Linked DNA regions of Homo sapiens: region 2 is linked to region 1. Evidence: fine-mapped expression QTL. A gene starts in region 1. The other region holds a variant in brackets. All regions are shown on one strand. Distances are from middle to middle.

Region 1 (9,804 bases):
GTCCATGATATCTTTTAGAACACCCAAGTTGTAGCTAAGCACTTAACTACCCAGCTAGAGATGACATTTCCAGGCTCCCCTGCAGCTAAGTTCTGTGGAATGTAAGCAGTGATGAATGTCACTTCTGGATCATGCCCTTAAAGCCAGGGGGTGTCTACTGCCCCTTTGCCCTCTCTTCCCTTCCTACTAACTCAGTGTAGACATGATGGCCAGAGCTGGAACGGCCACCCTGAATCCTGAAATGGAAGTCATGTGTTCAGGACGGCAGGGACCCCTCCTAAACTGCTAACTCTGACCTGGGTTGTTACATGAGAGAGCACTAGCTGTTCAAGCTCTGTTATGCAGCTGAGACTGCAGCCTCACACACGCAGGCATCATGAGGACCTACTCTGTGCTGAGCCCTGGGGCTACGAGGATGGGCTGGGTAGAGTCCCTGTCCTAAAGGAAGAAGCTCACCATGTGGCACAAAGAGAGATACAGGAGAGACGGTCACCCTCGAATAAGCAGATCTATGTTGAGTCAGAGGAGACACCAAGTGCTAAGGAGGCACAGGCAGCATCTCCCCTGTCTTGGGGCCCCCAGAAGAGCCCTGGCTCACGGTGGATGCCTGGCACAACAAGTTGGCTGTGGAAGACTCCGCAGAGGTGACCCTCCCCAGAACCCTCCACGTACCTCTTCGTTGTCATAGAGTGTGACCATGCGCACGTGAGGCTCTGTGGCCAGGGAGCCAGGGCCTGCACAGGAATCTATCAAGGCCTGGTTCAGGGAAGGAAATGAGAGCATCATCTCCAACCTGCTTCTGCTGGAACTCAGCCCACCAGCACCTTGGGTGTGCACGCTCCCCCATCCACCAGCACCTTGGGTGTGCACATTCCCCTGTCTGCCTTCCATGGCCATGACTTTTATCAATTAGGGCACTGCCTGGCAGAGGGTGTGGTGGGGACCTTTTTTTTCTTGCCAAATAAATAGCTACATAGGTAGAAACCTTTAAGGTGTGGTGAGGACCTTTTTTTTCTCTTTTTTTCTTTCTTTCTTTTTTTTTTTGGCCAGATCAATAGCTAGGTAGAAACCTTTTCAACTGGGACAGGAGACACCATCCTTTGGGTGTTGTTCTCTACCTTCCCATGCAAAAGGCAGTAGAAGATGTGGAGGACAGAGAGGAAGAGCTGAGAGTCCTGGAAAGCCAAAAGGCTACACACATCACATAAACTGATTGGCCTCAGGGAAAAGACTGAGGTTCAAAGAGGTGACAGACTCCATCAAGGTGACATGACTGGCTGGTTGCCTGCAGAAGTAGATGCAGGTCCCAGGTCCAGCTCTGGTCTCAATTACAGCCCAAAGCCTATCTCCAGCCACAGGATTACAGGGAAGGAAAGGCAGAAAAAGGCAGAGGGAGATCAAGGGCAAGAGGAGAGAAAGAAAGGGAACTGACTAGGGTGGAGAGAAGGTGGGGAATATCAAGGTGACTAGGAAGAGAGGCTACCTGACTGAGATCCCAAGAAACAGGGAGAAGGCTGGGGTCTTAAGCCTGGGGAGTGGCGTAGGAAGCAGAAGGAGGTGGATGATACTGCCTTGTGGATGATAAAGCCTTTCCCTGAGGCAGAGGTTGTTAACTTCAGGAAAAGCAGCAGGAGCAAGGCTAGGACAAGAGACCATGGTGCCTGAAACAACTTCTCCTCCTTCTTCTTGCCTCAACACCCTGATAGTGCAAGGGCAGAGACCAAAGGTGGCGATGCTGAGGCTGCAACATTTAGGGCCCCCTCCTGGTCCATCCAGCACCAGCAGACTGAGCGGGTAGACAATGGCCCTCTCTCACAACCTGCTGGGGCTTTAGGCAGCTCCCCCGACCCCAAACATACCACCTCTGCTGGTGGTTATGTGCTGCCTGGGGCGCCCCGGCTCCTCACCTGCAGGGCACAGAAGCAGCTGTGCAGATTGTCCAGCCGAGGAGCAAAGATGAACTCATCATAGGCACCACCCAAGACCTAGAGAGGTAAGACAGTCAGCCCGACCTTCAACCCTCCACCCCCACTCACCTTTCTTTTGCTCCCAAGGGTCTCCTTGGTTTCTTGCGCAACCTCTCCCTGACCCCTGGCTTAGGGCACTATTTTGTTTTTTCTTTTTTTTGAGATGAAGGTTCGCTCTTGTCGCCCAGTCTGAAGTGCAATGGCTCGATCTCGGCTCACTGCAACTTCCGCCTCCCGGGTTCAAAGGATTCTCGTGCCTCAGCCTCCTGAGTAGCTGGGATTACAGGCATGCACCACCAGGCCCAGCTAATTTTTGTATTTTTATTAGAGACAGGGTTTCACCATGGTGGTCAGGCTAGTCTCGAACTCCTGACCTCATGTGATTCCCCCCGCCTCAGCCTCCCAAAGTGCTGGGATTCCTTGCTAGGCAGGACCAAGCAGAGATTGGAGAAGGGGGCTGGGTTGGTGCTGAGGAACAAAAGGGTGGAGGCCAATAGCTCTTGACCTCTTCCTGTGGGTCAAGAAAAGGAAGGGCTGAATTGTCATCAAAAAGGCCAAAGAAGTAAACAGAGGAAACCAGCCAAAAAACAGAAACTTAGTACGTGTTCAAGCAGGACACAGCATCCAAAGATTTAGCAATCTCTGACCATCAGCAACCGGGAGACAGAGAACAGATGGCCACATCCAGGCCTCTTTCCCTAAGCAGTTCAGTGTCAGTGTGGGTCAAAGCAGACAGGGCCCACCTGTAGAAGAAACTCTTTGGGAATCTGTAAAAAGGGCCAATTCCCAGATAGTCCTAGTGGGCAGGTCTGGGGTAGGGAACTTGTCTTTTTGAGAACCACCGCCCTAGAAGCAGTGGGGGATGTGTCTACTGGGAAAAACGGGGATGAGAGTTACTGAGGGCTTGGTGGAGGTGATGGGTGCTTCAGCAGGACGGGCTAGGGGTGGCCAGGATCCTGGAGGCCCTTCACCCACAGGTTCCTACAGCCAGTCCTCACCGCAGGCTGGGTGTCTGCAAGGCAGAGCTCCATCTCCACTATGTCCTTGGGGCTCAGCCCCAGATGGGCACAGAGCAGGGACATGAGGACCGAATGGTGCCGCTCATCCTGAAGAGCAGAAAGATGCTGGGAAGAGTCCATTCCTCCTCTCCTCCCCACTTCTCAGGGGACTCTGCCGCCCTCCCCATGATCAGGAGACTCTCTTACCACAGCATTGAGAGGCCCTGGCTCAGGAGTCCCCTTCTCCAGCTCCTCCTGGATGGCTGTGGCAAGAATGGGGACTCTGTGGGGAGACGTGGGTTGTGGGGGGATTGCGAGGAGGGCACAGCTGAGTGCGGCATCCATAAGTTCAGGTGCCTCCTGATGGGCAACTGCCTCTGCCCTTCAATTCCCAGCCCACTCCCCAAATCACAAGGCTGTGAGGACCCTTAGAAATTAACTGGGTCCCAAGAGTAAAATGTGACCTAATGGCTACCATTAGGTAATAATCACCTGGTACCATTCTCCATCCCTCCCAGCCACCGCAGCCCTGCCCCAGTCTCACAGATGCATCTCTGTGTTGGGCCCAAAGTTCTCGTTGATATTTCGCTGCAGATGGATGGCCAGGTGTGGGATGCGAAGAATGGGCCGCTCCACGTGCACCAGCTGCTGCTCCAGCCGACCTGAGGTAGGGCACTGCAGCCAGCCAGGCCAGGTCAGCCCAGGGTGCCTCCTACCCCAGTGGTCAGTCTTTACTTCACTCAGACTAAGCAGGGTGGTCCTCTGACCAGACTGCCCCCACCCCTCTTCCCCACGGGTACCCTGAGGAGTGTGGCAGTCAGTCTTCTGAGGAGGCTCCGCCATCCCCAACCTCGGTTCCCACCTTGACAATGACGCGTCCAGCCAGAGTCAGGTCACGGTCAAACCAGGTGCTCCAGATCCCACCACCATAGGTCTCCACACCGACTTGCTGGAAGCCCACCTGGCTGCGGCGAGACCGACGTTTCACCTGAGTGTAAAGATGGAGAAGTCAGAGAAGGCTTCATGACGATATGTGGAGATGAGACTTTGGCTACTCATAAGTAACAGACAGCGAATATTAGTGTCACATGAAAGGCTCAAGGTGTGAAGGAAGGGGCCAACAAGTTTACCTTCTCCCTTACTCCAGGGGATAGAGGCCCCAGTTTGTACCTCCTAGTTCTCTTTTGCCCTGTACTCCCTCTGACATCTCCTCCCACCCCAACACCGTCCGAGTTCCTTACCCGGAGGCAGGGGCTGTCCGTGTGGGCCCCGATGAGGCTGAAGCCATTGCCAGGAACGTACTGGCCCCCTACAGCAAAAGCTATGATGGTGGAGGAGTTCCTGGTCATGAAGTACTGAGGAGAAGGGGAGGAAAGACAGGGGTGTGAGTTGCATTACTCAGCTGGCACACAGGGCTTGGAGACCAGCCTAGGGACCTGCCTTTCCACCCCCACCCCACCCCCAGTACCTTGCTCTCGGGCTTAATATTCCATTTCTCAGTCTCCTTGAGTTCACTGAAGCCAGCCTGGAGAAGGCGGTTGCGGCATTCAGCCACAGCTGTGGGAAAAGCACCCTCTCACAGCGATGGAAGCTGGTGAAGGGCGCATCAGCCTCCACCCTCCTCCCTTGCCCTGGCCACCGCTTACCATGGAAAGGAGAGGGACTCCGGTTCACGAACTTGAGGAGTTCCTTAGCCGCAGTCTGCACCGCCTCTTTGCGGGCCTTACCGTTCATGGCCACCTAGGGGAGGGGGATGCTCAGACTTTTACAAGGTCTGGGACCCCTGACCTTTCACCCAGGTTCCGAGGATTCTCCCATCCCCACCCCCAGAAGTGACCACTCTAAGGCACAGACCTCTGCTTCCGCCCGTCCCCACCGAGAGACCCAAACCCAGGGCTGAAACTCCGTTGAAAGCTTCAGCCCGCCGGCCCAGGATCATGAGCCAGGCCCGCCCCTTAATCCGAACTTTAGCCCGACTCCCTAAGTCCCGCCCCCATGTCCCTGCCCAGCTAGGAAATCCTGTTCTGCTCCCAAACTCCGGGATCCCAAGCGGGCCCCATACTCTGAGGCGGCCTGCATCACGTGCGCGTACCCAGCCCGGAGCCAAAGCCCTGTACCCCAAGGAGCACCCTGACTCCTCTCTCGCACCCACCTAGTCTCTCGCAGGACTCCCCCTTCCAGTCCCGGGAAAGTCGTCAGGTCACCCTCCGCGGGGCTTTCGGTTTCGCTTTGGGTCAGGCGGCCCCACTGCAGCACCGCGCTAAGCTTGGGCCCCGGAGGGCGCCGGACCCGGTCTGGGATCGAAATTCAAGTGGGGCCGTCGGGAGCCACTTACCTGCATGGCCCCGCGCGTGGGGCTGTGTCCGCTCATCTGGCCTCCGGGCTCGGCCCGCCCCCACCGCGCCGCCTGCCCCGCCCCTCACTAGCTTTGCAGGTCCCCCGCGTGCCCCTTCAGGCCGCGCCGCACTCGTAGGCCTTCATCACGCTTCCCCGGCCGCGCCGCCCCGCCCCATGTTTGGCCTCCCCGCCCACCTCTCCCCGCCCCTCGGCATCCGCCCCGCCCACCTCGGTCAGCCCCGCCCCTCGGCGGGCTTACCCTGTCCGCTCCGCCCCTCGCTGGGCACCACCACCCGCCTTGCCCCGCCCTTGCCCCGCCCCTAGCTTGGCCGCACCGCCCGCCCCGCCCCGCCCCTCGCCAGGAAGCACCGCCCGCCCTGCCCCTCGCAGGGCTGCACCGCCCGCCCCGCCCCTCGTCAAGCTTCCTCGTCCGCCCCGCCTCTCGCCAGGCTGCACCGCCCTCCCCGCTTTGTCCCGCCCCTCACCAGGTTTCCCCCATCCGCTCCGGCCCTCGCTGTACCCCACTACTCGCCCTGCCCCCGCCCTTGCTCCGCCCCGCCCTTCGTCAGGCCTCCTTGCGCTCCCCGCCCCTTGTCAGGCCGTGCCGCCCACCCCGCCCCGCTCCTCGCCAGGCTGCTCCACCCGCCCCGCCGCTCGTCACGCTTCCTCGTCCGCCCCGCCCCTCGCTAGGCTGCACCGCCCGCCCCGCTTCCGCCCCATCCCTCTCCAGGCCGCGCCTCCGCCTCCGGCCCGCCCTCGTCTCCGCCCCTGCGGGGGCTGCTCGTTAGGCCCCGCCCTGCACCCCCGTCACCCACGCCGCGCGACCCGCAGCCGCCGCCAGGGCCCTCTGCTGCCGCGGAGGTGCTAGGACAGCCGCGGACGGCCCGCCTCCCCGTGCCCCGGGCCTCGAGGCCAATAAAAAGCTCGCCCCTCCAGCTCACCGGGTCCGACGGGTACGGTACAAAGTGCTGTCTCTCGCCACAGCCACCTTTGTGACAATAAAAGCAATAAGGCTAATGTCCATGGGGCGCTCACGGTGAGCTTTAGCTTTATGATAAAGATTGGCCTGTTACCTCGTTTAATCTTCACAACTGCCCCATCAACTATGTACTCTTACTGTCCCCAGTTTATGCATGAACAGAGAAAGCTGAGATACGGAGACTAGTGATCCGTCGAGGTAATAAACGGCACAGGTGGGGTTTGAACTCCATCAGTTTGATTGCAGAGGCCTGGAACAACCCTACAGCCTTCTCTCAGATCTTTTCTGGACCTTTTTCTATGCGCTTTGGTAAGTGTTATGTTACACGGGAGGTCCACAAGGGACACAGAAGTTGACTTGCCCAAGATCACATAGCTGTTTGGGTGGATCTGGGATTTGACTCTGATATCTGTGCCCTTTCCATTTGTTAAAAACAACAGAAAAACAAATTCCACATTATTGGCAGTTCCAGTATTCCCATGTCAGGAGTAGTGAGTAGCACGTTTAAACCCCATGCACCTTCCTAGCTGCAGGAACTGATCAGGACTCTTGGTGGCCTCTAGATCCAAAACAGGGCCCAGCTACCAGGGGTTCAAACAAAATTCCAGAGATCACAGGTTTATGGAGCAACCTGCCGTTTATATACCTGGGGTGGGGAGTGACAGGGTGGGATGGGGAGAGGCTGGAAAGGTCCTGCAGCCCTCACTTCAAACTAGTAGATATGGCAGGGGAGTTTTCAAGAATTCACCCACTAGGTGCTGGCTTAAATTCATGGCATTCCCTAACCGTTTGTTGAAATACCATTATGGGCCTGGCGCAGTGGCTCACGCCTGTAATCCCAGCACTTTGGGAGGCCGAGGCGGGTAGATCACTTGAGGTCAGGAGTTCGTGACCAGTCTGACCAACATGGTGAAACCCCGTCTCTACAAAAAATACAAAAATTAGCCGGGTGTAGTGGCACGTGCCTGTAATCCCAGCAGCTACTTGGGAGGCTGAGGCAAGAGAATCGCTTGAACCCGGGAGGTGGAGGTTGCAGTGAGCTGAGATCGTGCCACTGCACTCCAGCCTGGGCGACAGAGTGAGATTCTGTCTCAATAAATAAATAAATAAAATTATGTATAAAGCTCAATGCTGAGCAGGACATGGAGAGAGCATTCTTGTCCTCTACCTCCTGGGGAGGGGACACATTCAAGGAGGACAGTGAAAGGGCCGAAACAAGGCTACAATGTATAAGGGAAGGAGACAACCTGAATAAGGAACCACCTTTAATGTTCTTTCTGATCACAGAAAAGAGTACATGCTTGAGTAAGAGATTCAAACATCACCAAAATGCATAACTTAGAAAGTGAGCCGGGAGTGGTGGCTCACGCCTGTCATCCCAGCATTTTGGGAGGGAAATACAGAAGTGTTCCTATTCAAATCAGAAGTGAGACATTGATGAGCTATTACTGCTGCTAGACAATGTGGAGCTGTAGTCAGAGCCAGTACCACAAAACAAAATTAACAATTCTATATGTGCAAAAGTAAAATTGGTCATTATTTATAGATTATATGATTATCTAGAATCCCCAAGAAAATAAACGATCAAGCTATTATTAGAACTGGTAGGAAGGGTAGCCTAATTTAAAAAACACTGACTTTCTTGTACAATAATCACCTAGAAAATATAAAAGTAAAAAGGTTCTTATTGACCATTTTTGGTTTGGGTAAAAAAGAAAAAAGTAAAAGGGCTATATTTACAAGAGCAAGAAATATTGTTAAATTTCTAGTCATGAACATATGAGACACCTAATCTCACTTTAAACAGGAAAATGCAAGTTAAAAATGAGATAACAGTTGGGCGTGGTGGCTCATGCCTGTAATCCCAGCACTTTGGGAGGCAAAGGCGGGTGGATCACGAGGTCAGGAGTTTGAGACTAGCCTGGCTAAAAATACAAAAAATTAGCTGGACATGGTGGTGTGCACTTGTAATCCCAGCTACTCAGGAGACTGAGGCAGGAGAACTGCTTGAACCCGGGAGGCAGAGGTTGCAGTGAGCCGAGATCGTGCCATTGCACTCCAGCCCAGGCAACAAGTGCGAGACTCCAACTCAAAAAAAAAATTAATAAATAATAAAAATGAGATACTTTTTCTTTTTATTGAGCAGATTAACAAAAATGGAAAAGATGGGTAATATCAAGTGTTGGAGAAGGCTTGGGGTAATGCAAGCATTTTCTGGAGGCTAAAGCAACTCCATCTGGGAAGCTAATCTGCCATGTTGACTTTTCAACAACCTGTTCCAGGAATGACTCTAAGTTTTCTACTTTACCTACTATTACCATAAATCCTGCGCTTAGACAGATTCACATAGCATTCATGACTTTGCCTGAGGGGTCAACTTCAATTGTTTGACACATTGTTTCCCTATGGTATGTAAGCCCTGGGTTTGCAGGGTAATCCACCATTTCATCTCTGAAACTATGGCCTCTATTCATAAGTCCCTATGAAATGTTTCTTTCTGAGAGACTGTATATGTCAGCCTCTTTCGTCGGCTTTTCAGCTTCCCTGAACTTTGGGGGTATGTTTGCACAGACCTTTATACCCAAATTTCTGTGGTGTAAATGTTCCCCGTGGCCGATTTCAAGCTGTCGAGATGATGTCACTGAAGGGAGTTGGGAAGAGCTGTGCGGAAGCATGCCATTATGTAGATTTCCACCATGCAGACACAATGGATAGAAATAACATCAACAGCATAGATTTAAGAAGGCAGTAAAATGTTTGGAAAGGTGATGGATTTTTGGTTTTCATTATCTGTAATATAATTTATTTAATTGTAAGTGTATATAATTTAGTTTTTTTTAATGATTGCTGTGTTTAACAACAAGCTCACCAAATTCCTGGAAATTTGACAATCAGTTCTCATGAGCTTGTCCAAGTTGGCCCCAGCACACTATTCCACCCGTACTGTACATCTTTGCTACTAAATGTGTGATCTGTTGACCAGCAATGTCAATAACATCTGGGAGCTTTTTAGAAATGCAGAACCTCAGGGCTTACCCTAGAGTTATAGAATCAGCATCTGCATGTTAACAAGATTCCTAGATGATTTGAATGCTTGAGACACAGTATTTTAAAGTGCTGTGTAGCAGTTCATAAAAAAAAAAAAAAGGTCAGTCTTTAGGAATTGTTACAGAAAAGAATTCCAAATATACTGTTGAGTGAAAAAAAAAAGCAATTTCTAGAATGTAAGGTGAGGGCCTTTAGATAAAACTCACACAATGAGCTAAATTTATATTTCTAGATGTTATATAAATACATATGTAAATGGATAGAAACAGGTTTGGAAGGATAATGGTCACCTCTGGGTAAGGGAATGGTGATGGATTTGGAGTTCAGGTGGCAAAGTCAAGGGATGACTAGGGATCAAGAAAGAAAAAGTTTCTGAGAATCGTTCTTGCCCTTGGCCTTCTGAGAAAATCTTCCCTGGAAGATCTCGGCTGATGTTTACAATGCTACCATTATTCATTCATCTTTTTGGTTTAAC
Region 2 (9,193 bases), 43 kb after region 1:
CATCCTGCACATGGAGCAAATCTGTTGGCTCCTGAGACCATCTAAACTATGGGACAGGCGCTGGGGACTGCAGAACCACCTGCTGGGTGCTGGGCTGAAGGAAAGGTGTTAAAGTCTTGAAGAAGTAACAAGCCTGTCTTGAGGGGGGTTGGGGTCTGCTAGGGCTCTGCCCAATGTGGCCCCAGATGGACTCCCAGCCCCTGGTATAGCCCAGCCTGGACTTGGTCAGGCTGAGTGTGCGATGGACCCTGTTACAGAAACCAGCCCTGAGCAAAGGGGTTCTGAGGTCCATACCAAGAAGACGGTGATGATCAAGACCATCGAGACACGGGATGGGGAGGTAAGTGGTCTGTCTGGGCTCCTTACCCTTGGTGGGGGCTATGGATGTGTCTGGGGGGACTGTCTTCCACCCAGCTGTGCTGGTCTAGGTCCCTGGCTAGTGGGGCAAGAGAGATCCTGCGGCCCTGGGGTGGGGATGGCTCAGGGCTGAGGCTCCATTCTCTGGCTAGCACATGGTTGGACTGGGCTTCTCTTCCTCCCCAGGTCGTCAGTGAGGCCACACAGCAGCAGCATGAAGTGCTCTAAAGACAGAGACCCTCTGCCACCAGAGACCGTCCTCACCCCTGTCCTCACTGCTCCCTGAAGCCAGCCTTCTTCCATCCCAGGACACCACACCCAGCCTCAGTCCTCCCCTCACAGCCTCTGACCCCTCCTCACTGGCCATCCCTCGTGGTCCCCAACAGCGACATAGCCCATCCCTGCCTGGTCACAGGGCATGCCCCGGCCACCTCTGCGGACCCCAGCTGTGAGCCTTGGCTGTTGGCAGTGAGTGAGCCTGGCTCTTGTGCTGGATGGAGCCCAGGCGGGAGCGGTGGCCCTGTCCCTCCCACCTCTGTGACCTCAGGCACTAGCCTTTGGCTCTGGAGACAGCCCCAGAGCAGGGTGTTGGGATACTGCAGGGCCAGGACTGAGCCCCGCAGACCTCCCCAGCCCCTAGCCCAGGAGAGAGAAAGCCAGGCAGGTAGCCAGGGGGACTAGCCCCTGTGGAGACTGGGGGGCTTGAAATTGTCCCCGTGGTCTCTTACTTTCCTTTCCCCAGCCCAGGGTGGACTTAGAAAGCAGGGGCTACAAGAGGGAATCCCCGAAGGTGCTGGAGGTGGGAGCAGGAGATTGAGAAGGAGAGAAAGTGGGTGAGATGCTGGAGAAGAGAGGAGAGGAGAGAGGCAGAGAGCGGTCTCAGGCTGGTGGGAGGGGCGCCCACCTCCCCACGCCCTCCCCTCCCCTGCTGCAGGGGCTCTGGAGAGAAACAATAAAGAGATTCACACACAAGCCAAGCTGGCCCCTGTTGTCTTGACTGCCAGGTCTCCTGTGGGGCCCCTGGGGCCCTGTGATACAACCTGTCACCCTGAGATGGACTATACTGACCTTCTACCCAGCCAGACTTTCCCCAGGGCCTCGCGCCCACTTCTGTTCCCAGAGCCACCTGGCCTTGATGTCTGTATGCAGTGTATGGGGCAGGGAGGGCTGGACAGGGCTTTTGTTGGGGAACCACAAATACCTCTCGTTAGGCCCCAGTTCCAGGACTGCACCCCTTGTGCTCTCTACTACACCTTCAGGTCAGCCAGGCTGGGGGACACCACCTGCTATTCCTTTTGAAGGATGTAGCTGCTCCCCACTGACTGGCTCTGAAGTAGGGCTCCCCCAGTCCCTTCTTCAAAGATGCCAACAGCCCCTTTTTTTTCTCTCTCTCTTTTTTTCTTTTTGAGATGGAGTCTTGCTGTGTCACCCAGGCTGGAGTGCAGCAGTGTGATCACGGCTTACTGCAGCCTGGACTTCCTGAGCTCAAGCGATCCTCCCACCTCAGCCTCCCAAGTAGCTGGGACCACAGGTTCACACCACCATGCCTGGCTAGCTTTTTATTTTTTGTAGAGACAAGGTCTTTCTGTGTTGCTGAGGCTGGTCTTGAATTTCTGGGCTCAATTGCTCCTCCTGCTACCTCAGCCTCCCAAAGTGTTGGGATTACAGATGTGAGCCAATGGCCTCTTTCTATTAACTCCTTCCAATACTATTTTTATACACAGGAGCCAATTCAGGAAAAATAATGTTTGGAAAAATGGAAAGATCTGTTCTGTGCTTCGATAAGAAGGTTCAATACTCTGAAGAGAAGTCAATTCATTTTCCATTCATCTATAATTTCAATGCCATGCAATCTCAATTAAAATACCAAATAAAAATTTTAAGAGAATTGGAGAAGATGGGAGGGGAGTGTAAGACGTATGAAAAAAATTAGGAGGCTGGGCACAGTGACTCCACCTGTAATCCCAGCACTTTTGGAGGCTGAGGTGGGAGGATCTCTTGAGCCCAGGAGTTTGAGACCAGCTTGGGCAATGTAACGAGACCCTGACTCTACAAAAAATAAAAAATTAGCCTGGCATGGTGGTATGAGCCTGTAGTTCCAGCTACTTGGGAGGCTGTGGTGGGAGGATAGCTTGAGCCCAGGAGGTCGAGGCTTCAGTGAGCTGAGATTGTACCACTAACTCCAGCCTGGGTGACAGAGTGAGACTCTGTCTCAAAAAAAGAAAAAGGAAAAAAATTAGGAAATCATAGAAAGAACATCAAAATATATTAGAAGGCTATGATAATTAACAGATTTGTTAATGAAGAGGAAATATACAAATATTAATGAACAAAATAGTGTGTTTAGAACAAGACTCACATACAGGAGACATACACATGTTAAAGGAGGCATTTTGAATTTGTGGGGAAAACTTAATGATTCAGTATAGGGTTTGGAGCACTTTGATAGCTAAGAGGTGGGGTAGGGGGCAGAGTGAAGGCTGTCTCTCTTTTACTCCTTCTAAAAATATTCCAGTGGATCAAAGATGTAGGAAACGATGGATCCATGTAGGCCTCAGCCTTCAAGTTTCTCCTCTGAGATTTCAGGGATTATCCTTTAAAGGAGTCAGGAAGAGGGTAGAGATCACAAAGATAATAAGCTCAGACAGTTTGTATGTTAAATAAACCTCAGGAGGTTTTAGTCTTAAGGTCCTTAATCTGACCTTCCAAACTGACTTTTCCAGAAACTTCCAAAAGCCTCTCTGGTGTCTCTTTCTTCCCCTCCTTTAATGTGGCCCTGGCTCACAAGTCACCCCTCTCTCTAAGAAGTCCCCTTCTCTGTTTTATTCTTCAGCTTTGCCCCAGGAGGACCTGGGGTGTAGCCCCATGTCCCCTCCCTCTGCCACTGGTGACTCATGGTCATTTCATTCCCCTCAGTCCTCAAATAGGGTGAACCCTACAGGCCCCAGAACTACCCCAGTCAACCTGTAGAGAAACTCCACAATGACCCTCACAGGAAATGAAATTGAAAGTCCCATTTCCAATGTCTTTGTACTGGGATGGAGGAGGAGGGATGGGTAAGGGGCTTCTTATCCTTGAGTCTGTTGGGGGCCCTGGAGTCTGAGCCAGCTTCTCTGTGTTGGAAACACCTGGACAGGGCTGGGCTCAGGTGGATTAGAGGGGGTGTGTATATCTGTGAGTAGTTTCTGGAATCCTTCTTTCCCCTGAATGAGTTATGTGCACTTATCTGTCCCACAAAGGATAAAGGGACACATGGGTTAGGGGAGGTTTTGGAGGCAGTTCCCCTCCCACCCCCCAGCCCACCAAATGCTTAGGTATAGACTAGTCACTAAGGTGGAAGGAATGTAGGAATCTCAGGCTCTCAGAGTCAGACCTCAGAAGGCTCCCAGGCAATGATCCTTGAGGTGCAGAAACCCCCTTCTCAGCCCTGCCCCACATCCTTCATGAGCATTCCTCAAACTCTGCCTGAATGTCTCCAGAGCCCGAGAACTCACCGCTTCTTTGGTGGCCCCTTCCAGCTGGGGACAGTTCTGAAATAAAGCTCTTCCTTCTCAGCACACCTGTCTCCTGTGACTGCTACCCACTTGTCCCCAGAGAAGAAAGAAGGCCCAGAGCCACCCTCTATCCCCCAGGTGGGGAAGGATTCTTTGAGCACAGCCTGCCTGGAACTAGAAATTCTGGTTCTAATCTTTGCCTCTCTTCATAAGAGCTGAGCTGTGACCAAGGGAACCCAGAGAATGGGCAAATACAAACCAAAACAGATTTGGGTTTCCACCGGCTGCAGTGGCTCACATCTATAATCCCAGCACTTTGGGAGGCCAAGGTGGGAGGATCACTTGAGCCCAGGAGTTTGAGACCAGCCTGGGAAACTGCAAGACCCGATCTCTACAAAACAAAACAAAAACCCAACAACAGGGGCGGGGCACGGTGGCTCACACCTGTAATCCCAGCACTTTGGGAGGCTGAGGCGTGTGGATCACAAGGTCAGGAGTTCAAGACCAGCCTGGCTAACACAGTGAAACCCCTCTCTACTGAAAATACAAAAAAAAAAAAAAAAAAAAATTAGCCGGGCGTGGTGGTGGGTGCCTGTAGTCCCAGCTACTCAGGAGGCTGAGGCAGGAGAATGGCATGAACCCGGGAGGCGGAGCTTGCAGTGAGCCGAGATCGCGCCACTGCACTCCAGCCTGGGCAACAGAGGGAGACTCTGTCT[C/CA]AAAAAAAAAAAAAAAAAAAACACCTCCACGGCAAAGCCTCTTCCTGCTCCTTGGGCTCTGGGGTCTTAACCTTCAAGACTCTGAACATCAAGAAGTAACAGGGCTCATAGAATGCTGATCGGCTTCCCACCGGACCCAAAGGATCAGGCCCAGACCAGCTCTGACCCCAGCAGACAGGGTGTAATGGAAGGGATCATGGAGGCAGGCACCATATGCCAGGACTGATGGATCAGCAGACATTTTCCTGCCTGTCTGTCCACTCCAGGTATATTTTCACCCCCGTCCCTTGAGGCCCCTGTCCTATTCTACTCATTCACCCCCTCCCTCCTTCCTCTCACCACAAGCTCACCCAAGGCACATCTGCAAATGCTTCAATAACCTTCGATTTAACACCTAAAACGTCAGCTACCTAAGGGTAGAATTTTAATCCATTTTATTCACTATTGTATCCCAAGTGCCCAGAAGAATGCCTGGAAGAATAGTAGGTACTCATTAAATATTTAAATACTTAATGAATGAATACCTACTGCGCACTTTTACTTACTTTTCTCTAAATTAAATATTCACCAGGAAGGGCTGATGGCCCCCACTTTATTCACTGATTCAATGAACACTTACTGAGATTTTTCCCATGTGCCAGGCATGTGGTACATCATTATGGCTTAAGAAGTGCCCAGTGGCACCTCCAGAGAGGTAGGGTGACCTGCAAAGGTCACACAGCAGTCTGTAGCAAAGGAGGACTGGGCTCCAGGCTCCCTGGCCTCTGGAGCTCAGATCTCTTTCCATGACACCAGAGGCTTGTGATCGCAAGACAGGGCAGACTGGCAGCACACACACCCAGCTAGGCGCCAGGCTGCAGGGCACTGTGGGGCCCATGCTGAGGGACAGACGAGTGACTTGCAGCCAGCTGTCCCAAGTGCCTGGCCTGGCCTGGCCAGAGCCTGACGGCTTCCAGCTGTCACAGCTAGTGTGGGCTCCTCCCAGAAGAGGGCACCAGTGACTTGCATGGACTTGTGCCCTCCCTACCCAGGCCCACAGACTCCTGCACGCAAATCAACGAATGCCCCAATTATGGATCTAGGAAGGCAGAAGGCAAGTCATGTTCCAGGCTCTGTGCCAGGCCCTTTTAAATAGTTAATCTTCATTTGAATATTTAATATAATAATTTAATGTCATTACTACAACGTAAGTCAGATCATGTAATTCTTCTGCTCAAAGCCCTAAGATGACTTCTCATTTCACCAGGAACAAAAGCGCCATGGCCTGCAAAATTCTAGGCCATCTGGCTTCTGCTGCCTGTCTGACCCATTTCCTTCCACTCTCCCCTTGCTCCCTCCATCCTCTCTGGCCTTCGTCTTGGAGCCCACCAGGCATATTCCCACCTCTGCCAGAAGCAGCCCTCCCCAGACATTTGCATCATTTGCTTTCTTACTCAAGATTGGCTCAAATGTTCCCAGTGGGGCCAACTCCAGCCACACCCTATTTGAAAGTGCAATCTCCCACCACACTCACATTTGCCTTAAGCTTTGTCCACAGTGCTTACCTCCTTGTAACAATCTTTACAGGTTCTTTCTTTTCCTTCCTTCCTTCCTTCCTTCCTTCCTTCCTTCCTTCCTTCCTTCCTTCCTTCCTTCCTTTCTCTTTCTTATCTTTCTTTCTTATTGAGATGGAGTCTCACTCTGTTGCCCAGGTTGGAGTGCAGTGGTGCCATCTCGGCTCACTGCAACCTCTGCCACCCGGGTTCAAGCAATTCTCCTGCTTTAGCCTCCCAAGTAGCTGAGATTACAGGTGTGTGCCACCAGGCCTGGCTAATTTTTGTATTTTTAGTAGAGATGAGGTTTCACCATGTTGGCCAGGCTGGTCTTGAACTTCTGACCTCAGGTGATCCTCCTGCCTCAGCCTCCCAAAGTGCTGGGATTACAGGCGTGAGCCACCGTGCGCAGCCTATTTCTTTGTATTTGTTGTTCATCTCTCTTCTCAAGTAAAAGCAGCATGGGAGCAGAAATCTTTGTCTGTTCACTGCTATATCCCTAGTCCCTAGCACAGTGCCAGTACATAGTAGAAACTCAAAAATATTTGTGGATGAATAAATAAAAAAATTATGGATGAATAAATAATTAAAACCCTGAGTTGTGCTACCTCCATTCTATAGATGAGGAAACCGAGGCTTAGAGATGCTAGGTAACTTGCTTGAGATCGCATCGTTCATTTATTCAACCAACTTACTAACCAGCCAACATTTACAGTCTACCCACTGCATTCCACACACATTTAGAGGCACAGTGTTGGGTGGCTTTGGGTTATTTGTTTTTCGAAATACTCTCTATTCCTTTTTTCTTGATGTACCATCTGTTTGCAATGACTTCCCCCATATTGTCACCTTCTAGAATTCAATTTACACTTTAGAATTCGATTCATCATCAGTGGTTGCCAGAGGTTGGTGGAGGGGGTCTATGGTAGAGTCTATGACTCCGAAGGGGGTACATGAGCTAGTATTTGGGGTGATGGAATTGTTTGCTCTGTATGGTCCTGGAGTGGCAGATACATGATTCTATGCATTTGTCAAAACCCAGAGAACTGCACCTCATAAAAAAATAAACTTTAGGCCAGGCACGGTGGCTCACACCTGTAATCCCAGTGCTTTAGGAGGCTGAGGCAGGCAGATCACCTGAGGTCGGGAGTTCGAGACCAGCCCGACCAAAATGGAGAAACCCCGTCTCTACTAAAAATACAAAATTAGCTGGGTGTGGTGGTGCATGCCTGTAATCCCAGCTACTCGGGAGGCTGAGGCAGGAGAATTGCTCGAACCCGGGAGGAGGAGGTTGTGGTGAGCCGAGATCACACCATTGCACTCCGGCCTGGGCAACAAGAGTGAAACTCCGTCTCAAAAAAAAAAAAAACTTTAATGTATGCAAACTGTAAAAAAAATTATTCCTCAAGGTTCTTAACCTCTATGGATGTAATTCAGTGTTTAAATGGTTCCTCCTATACCTTTTACACACTGTCTCTCGCGCTCTCTCTCTTTCTCTTTGACTTCAGTATCCCAGAATGAGGATGGGGAAGAGGAGGCAAGGGTAAGAGTAACATTCTCTGCCTCTGAATACTCATGGCTCCTCTCAGCCCTTCCTGGGTTTCATCCCTCAGGGCTCAAGGTCAGGCCTGGGTCTCCTACTTGGACTTCTTAAAAAATTTTTTACTTTATGATAACTGTAGATTCACAGGCAATTATAAGAAATAATGCAGAGAGATCCTGAATTACCTTCACTTGGTTTCCTCCTAGGGTAACATCTTGTATGACTATAGTACAGCATCACAACCAGGAAAGGGGCATTGGTATAATCCACCTACCTTCTGCAAGTTTTACCAGTGTTACATGTACTGTTAGTGTTGCGTACAAGTGCAAATGCACATTTAGTTCTATGCAACTTTATCACTTGTGTAGATCCACATAACCACCACCATTACCACTGTCAAGATACAGAACTGTTCTGTTTTTGTTTTGTTTTGTTTTTTGAGACAGAGTCTCACTCTGTTGCCCAGGCTGCAGTGCAGTGGTGCCATCTAGGCTCACTGCAACCTCCACCTCCCAGGTTCAAGCGATTCTCCTGCCTCAGCCTCCTGAGTAGCTGGGACTACAGGCATGAGCCACTACACCTGGCTAATTTTTTGTATTTTTAGTAGAGACAGGTTTCACCATGTTGGCCAGGCTGGTGTTGAATTCCTGAGTTCAAGTGATCCACCCACCTCGGCCTCCCAAAGTGCTGGAATTACAGGTGTTAGCCACCGCGCCCAGCCAAGATACAGAACTGTTCTATCACAAAGGTCTCATCTGGACTCTTGATGTTTCTCAACGTGCAACACTTAGGCACATCAGAATCAGTTGAGTCATTTGTTAAATGTGCAGATTCCTCCCAGCTCAGCTGCTGAACCAGTGTGGGGCAAGGAGGCTGGGAATCTGGCCTTTACTTGAACTGGCCGTCATTTCTATCCATCCTCCACTTTGTGGCCGCCAAGAGGATCCTCCTAAGACACAGCTCCCACCGTGTTTTTTCTGCCGCTTAAAGCTGTGTAGTGGCGCCCCCTGCTTTCAGGGTAGAGAAACCAAAGCCTTAGCAAACAAAGCCTTCTCCAGGCCCCACCTCCCTTCTTCCACTCACCCCACCCACTACGCTTCAATCCCTCCAAACCTCTCTAATTCCCAGGACGCCTTTGTTTTCATCAGGCTCATTTTGTTCATGCCGTTCCCTCTGCCTGGAATGTCCTGCCCACTCTTTTCTGCCTATTGCAACCCTATTCCACCACCCATTCTTACAGATGAGGACTTGGAGGTTGAGAGAGGTTTGGTGTCACCCAGCAAGTAAGGGCAGGGCGCAGTGGAGGCCCCAATCCACCTGACTCCCAGGCTCCTGGTCTTACTGTTCGCCAGCTGTAATGGAGGCGCTGGGGGAGGCCATGGTCCCTCTTCGGAGCTGTCTGCTCACCTCCACTTGGGCCTGCCTCCCCATCCACCTCTCAGGCATCTCACCAGGACCGTTCCTCTTCTTCCCCTCCCAGCGAAGCCGGGCAGGGATGAGGGGTCTGAGATGAGGGAGGAAGGGAAATGGGATTGAGCCCAGGGGTAACCT

Evidence for each region.
Region 2: its variant is fine-mapped to the expression of DNPEP in prefrontal cortex (ROSMAP, PIP 0.95).

What each region holds. Positions count from the first base shown.
Region 1 is chr2:219,382,459-219,392,262 of GRCh38, forward strand. DNPEP (aspartyl aminopeptidase) reads right to left here and starts at 5,454. Exons shown (of 15, transcript NM_012100.4): 1 at 5,301-5,454; 2 at 4,612-4,705; 3 at 4,434-4,522; 4 at 4,207-4,320; 5 at 3,828-3,953; 6 at 3,510-3,640; 7 at 3,173-3,248; 8 at 2,966-3,073; 9 at 1,908-1,985; 10 at 673-756. The coding sequence starts at 5,336. DNPEP-AS1 (DNPEP antisense RNA 1) reads left to right here and starts at 6,112. Exons shown (of 4, transcript NR_183823.1): 1 at 6,112-6,338; 2 at 6,429-6,590. RefSeq lists an enhancer at 4,135-4,981 and silencers at 5,246-5,485, 5,506-6,025, 6,106-6,255.
Region 2 is chr2:219,425,406-219,434,598 of GRCh38, forward strand. DES (desmin) reads left to right here. Exons shown (of 9, transcript NM_001927.4): 8 at 258-340; 9 at 544-1,329. The coding sequence ends at 585. Among named protein-coding and RNA genes, the nearest start is that of SPEG, 4.8 kb to the right of the region's middle. RefSeq lists an enhancer at 3,745-6,834. The variant C/CA (reference allele first, on the strand shown) is at 4,568.